Linked DNA regions of Homo sapiens: region 1 is linked to region 2. A link means that fine-mapping ties the variant in region 2 to the expression of a gene that starts in the linked region. Tissue or cell type: lung. Region 2 holds a variant in brackets; the other region holds the start of a gene. All regions are shown on one strand. Distances are between the middles of the regions.

What was found. PIP is the estimated chance that this variant, and not a neighbour inherited with it, causes the effect.
Region 1: it holds the start of PRKCD, and the variant in region 2 is fine-mapped to the expression of PRKCD in lung (TOPMed, PIP above 0.99).

Annotation. Positions count from the first base shown.
Region 1 is chr3:53,159,828-53,162,431 of GRCh38, forward strand. PRKCD (protein kinase C delta) reads left to right here and starts at 1,382. Exons shown (of 19, transcript NM_006254.4): 1 at 1,382-1,601. RefSeq lists silencers at 884-1,833, 2,104-2,333.
Region 2 is chr3:53,379,526-53,382,280 of GRCh38, forward strand. No RefSeq gene overlaps it. Among named protein-coding and RNA genes, the nearest start is that of DCP1A, 33 kb to the left of the region's middle. The variant C/T (reference allele first, on the strand shown) is at 1,426.

The sequences.
Region 1 (2,604 bases), 220 kb before region 2:
TTACAACTGGGCATCAGGGAGGAGGGACATTTGAATGGACACAACCAGGGCAGGTAGAGGTTTGGGGGTGGGGTGGGAAATGGCATTCAGGCCCAGAGAACAGCATGCTCAAGGCCTGGGTGTGAAGAGAAAGTCTTTCCCAAAGGATAGTCCTTGAACCCACCTGGTCTGGCCTTTTCTCCCCATCCATCTTCCGCAATCTCAACCAGGGTCCTCCCACCTGAACAACGTGGCAGCCCTTCTGTCCCCCATCCAGCCTCTCCTCTGCCCTGCTGTCCCTCTGCCCCATCTATCCCGCAGGAGCCCCCTTGAGCCTGTCATCCTGCCTGGTTGTAATAGCTTTCACCACCTTCTCATTGCTCTGTGAGAAGACCAAAGTCCAATGGCCTGTCTCTGTCACAAGCCCCTTTCTCAGCTCAGGCCACCTCAGGGATTGTCCCCCACTTCCATCCCTTGTGTCTCAGCTGGGAAGAGCTGTCTAGACTTTCTCTATCCCTTCTAGGTGGTTCCCCAGGACCTGGAACCCTCTTTTTTGTCTCCTGGGAAGTGACATTTCTTTGGATGAGTATAAGGCTAATGTCTTGGCTTTCTGAGCTCTGGGGACAGGGGAATGGACTCCCTAGAACCCCAACTGGTCCCTAGACTTTGAGCCTAGGGGACACTCGGTGAATAGATGAATGAGTGAATGAATGAATGAAGGAGTTATGGCTGACAACCAAGTTCCATGTCTGGAAAGGAGGCTCAGGCGCCTGCCAGGAGCAATAGAGAGGTCTCAAAGGTGGGGGCAGGAAAGCAGAAGACTGCCAATCGGGGTAGGGGCAACTGCCAGTCCGAGTAGGGGCAGTTCCCAGAACCGCCTGAGGAGCAGTGCAGCGCCCGACCAGCGAGAACCTCCGACCCTGGAGTCTAACCAGCTCAGTCTTTGGGGCAGAGCCGGGACAGCGGGCTTGGCGGCGGGCACCGCGCCCGGCCGCGTCCGAGCTCCAGCCAACAGGAAGAGCAGGAGTGGGGCCAGGAGAGGCGGGCCAGCTGGCCAGTGGGGAGTCCCGGGCGTGGGTGTGGGGAGCGGGGGAACCCCCGCCGGCCCCTCCCAGGCCCCAGCGGGCGGAGGGAGCCTCCCCACCGGGCCTCAGCGTCCTCCTCTGTAAAATGGGCCCCTTCTGAGGGCTGGCTGCGCGCTAATGGCGGGAGGATGCGAAGAGGGCCAGGCAGGGCAGAGGGACCGGGAGACTCGGTGTCCCGCGCAGGCAGAGGCGGAGGGACGCTGTCCCCGATTGCAGCTGGCGGGGCGAGGCCTGGCAGGGCGAGGCCTGGCGGGGGCGGGGCCTGGCGGGGGCGGGGCCGGCGGCACCTGGGTGAGGTCGCTCGGCCCCGCCCCCTCGCACTTCCGTGTGCCGCGGCGCCGGAGCCCGAGGCGGCTGTAGCCCACATCTCCCGAGCGACCCCCGGCGCCCGCCCGCCGCGCGGAGGCCCGGGCCACACCTCACTGGCCGCTTGGCCCATCCCAGTCAGCGCCGCGCCGAACCCCGTCCGCGCGCGCCGGGGAGCGGCGCCCCCGCCGCTGCCGCCGCGACCCTTGGCGCCTGCCCCTGCAACGGGAGGTAAGTGAGGGCCGGGTCCGGGCGCGGGATCGGGGCTACCCCGAGGGCGCGGCGCCCTTCCTTCCCCCTTCCCGCCCCAGTTCCCGTTTCCGAAACTGAGAAACTGAGCCGCGGTCAGCGAAAGTCCCGCCGCGCCGAGACCTGCCGGTGACTCCGTCCCCCTGTCCGTCTGTGTGTCCCTCCGCTAGACAGTGGGGGCTGAGGTCCTTCTGTCTGCCCGCTCCCGGCCCCTCCACCCGCCCGTGTGTCTCCCGCTCCTCCGAGGGGCCCGTCCGTCCCTCCCGACTCTCTCCCGGGCCCTGTGTCCGTCCGTCTGTCGCCACCCACTCTGTGTTCTCCCCCTGCGCGCCTCTCCGAGACCCGATCCTTCTGTCCCTCGCCACCCGATCCGTCCGTCCCTTGCCCTCCGCGTGCTCCATCGCCCCACCCCCACCCACACCCCTACCCCCGCCCGCCGCCCCCTCGATCCCGTCCTCCCGGAGCCGCGCCCCCGGCCCACGCTCGCCGCCCCCTGCCAGTCCAGCCGCCTCTCCGCTCTACCGCGGGGCCCAGGCCAGGCCGCCCGCCGGGCCTCGCCTCCCGCCCCTGGGTCCCTGGAGGCCCGACCCGCGCGGCGCCTCCTCCTCGCTGTCTCTTCTTTCGGTCTCAAGAGTCTTTCTCGGTCCCTTCATCCGTCTCTGGGCTGGGCGTGGCTCCAGTCTCCACCATCCCCCTTCCCACCCCACCCCTCCGCCCCTCTGAGACCCCTCCCAGGGTGGCCCCTGCCCGATACGGTCTGTACTCGCCCCCAACCCAGATGCCACTCCCGTTGTGGGGGCTCCACCAGATGAGGGGAGGAGGTCGGGGGGGGGGGTCCTCCTGGCTGGTGGTGGAGCGGCAGAAGGAGAGCACCATCGGAACTGCTCCCACTTCCCCAGTTCCCTCTCTCTTGGGGCAGGGGAGAGCCCCACCGAGCCCCGCCTTAAACCTGGTCAGAAGGATCTGCTGTGAGTGGGCGGGGGGT
Region 2 (2,755 bases):
TTTACAATAGCAATGAACACTCAACTTTTTCCCCCGCATTTCCTATGCCACTTTCTCTGTTTTGCCTTTTCCTAAAGTGCTTACCATCTGACACATACATACATAAGTATATGCATGCACATATGCATACATGTATGCACACATGTATACACACATGTATGTAGAGCTACTCGCTTGTCTGTTGTCTGTCTTCCTCATGAGCGTGTCAGCTTCATGATTATGGGAGCTTTATTTTGTTCCCTGCTGTATTCCTGGTGCCTAGAATAGTGGCACATTATAGGCTGTCAATATATATTCACTGAATGAGTGAATGAGTGAATTAACTGTCTAAATACTTCTTTCCCCCCCAAGGCAAGTGGCAGGAGCGGAAATTTTAAAGCATTATTTTGTTTGCCTTCTGCTTGATGTTAGCTGGCCAGCTGGTTACCCTGTGAATCGGGAGGAGCCTTCTGATTCCTTTCCAAAACTTAGGCTGGTCAGGGACCACACAGTTCCTCCAAGTTATGGGCTCACAGGGATTCTCATGGGACATTTAGTCAGCACATCTTCCCCTTTGATCTCCCACAGCATACTTGGGGAGTCAACATTTATGCCTATCTGTGAGCCTGGCCCACAGCCTGCCTTCCCTTCAGATGTATCAATGTTTGGCTTTTGGGTAGAGATGCCAAACAAGGAAAAGAAGATTGTTATTTGGGCTAGGAATTACTTCCAAAAGCCAAATGTGAGAGAAGTGCTACCACAAAGGTTAGCACACACAAATAGCCTGAAAACTGGCTGGAACAATTCTGCTTGCTACAAATAGAGATGAAAAGACATTTCTAAATGTAGTCCCAAACAATCAGACTGCCAGAATTGGAAGGGCATTCCTTTCCCTCCCTCCTTTTTTCCCTCCCTTCTTTCCTTTCTTCCTCTCTCAAAGAGGACACCAAGGGCCAGTGAAATGAGACGAATCTCCAGGGTCACACAGTTAGTGGCAGAGTCAGAGCCAAAACTCAGGTTTCCTAATTCTTACTCTTTACAATATACTATTGTGGTGCCTTCCCAGTAAGCAGGGGAATAGTAAGAAAAAATTTCAATTAAATATACTGGAGAAGTTAATTGCTTAGTTCTCAAAAAGCTCAGTGCTAGTGAACAGCTAGCCAGAGTGTCACCCAAGAGATGGAAAAATGGACATTTCCAGCTGGGCACAGTGGCTCATACCTGTAATCCCAGCACTTTGGGAGGCTGAGGTGGGCGGATCGCTTGAGCTCAGGAGCTCAAGACCAGCTTGGGCAACATGGTGAAACCCTGTCTCTACAAAAAATACAAAAATTATAAAAATTAGCCGGGCATGGTGGCATATGCCTATAGTCCCAGCTACTTGGGAGGCTGAGTTGGAAGGATGGCTTGAGCCTGGGAGGCAGAGGTTACAGTGAGCTGAGATGG[C/T]GCCATTCCACTCCAGCCTGGGTGACAGAGCCAGACCCTGTCTCAAAAAAAAAAAAAAAAAAAAAGTTTTTAATGGTATAACAATATATCTATATTTATATATATCTTTGTAATAGATAAATATATAGAATGCACATAAAATTTGGAATACTCATTCTCAGTCAGGATACACAGATTCTCCAAGGAAGCTACTTAGACATGGTGCCTAGAAGTCCTGGAAGTCAAATCCATGATTTGACTCCAATGACTACATCCTATACCATCATGTGATAGAAGATAAGACTAAAATATATTTTTTGTATTTTCTTTATATTTTTGTGACCTTTGTAACCAGGGAGCTTTGGCATGATAGTCATCTTAAATAAATCAAAACATGATTTAATAAAAATGCCATTTTACAAAACTATAACTCTTAGCAGGAAACATAGGTGTAAATCTTCATGACGTTGGAGTAGGCAACAGTTCCTTAAACATGACACCAAAGGCATAAGCAACAAAAGAAGAAACAGGTCAATTAAACTTTATCAAAATAAAAAACTTCTGTGCAGAAAAGGACTATCAAGAAAGCAAGAAGCCTGGGCATGGTGGCTCATCCCTATAATCCCAGCACTTTGGGATCCTGAGGTGAGAGGATCACGTGAAGCCAGGAGTTTGAAACCAATGTGGGTAACTTAGTGAGACCTCATCTCTGCAAAACATTGTTTTTAAATTTAAAAATTAGCCTGGCATGGTGGTGTGCCTGTAGTCCCAGCTATTCAGGAGGCTGAGGTGGGAGGATCACTTGAGCCCGGGAGGTTGAGGCTGCAGTGAGTCGTGATCACACCACCTCTGCACTGCAGCCTGGGGACCCTGTCTCAAAAAAAAAAAAAAAAAAAAAGACAACTCACAGAATGGGAGAAAACATTTGTAAATAAAATATTTGTAAATCTTATCTCTGATTAGGATCTAGTATCCAAAATATATTTAAACAACTCATAAAAGAATAAAAAGACAACTGCATTTAAAAATGGGCAAAGAATCTGAACAGACATTTCTCCAAAGCAGATATACAGATGGCCAATAAGAACATAAAATGATGCTCAACATCATTAGTCATTAGGGAAATAAATCAAAACCACAGTAAGATACTACTTCACACCCACTGGGATGGCTATGATGAAAAAAAAAAAGAAACACCAGAAAATAAGTGTTAGCAAGGATGTCGAGAAATTAGAACACTCATAACATTGCTGGTGGGAAGGCAAAATCCTCAGCCACTTCAGGAAACAGTCTGGGAGTTCCTTATAAGGTTAAACAGTTACCTTATAACCCAGAAATTCCATTCCTAAGT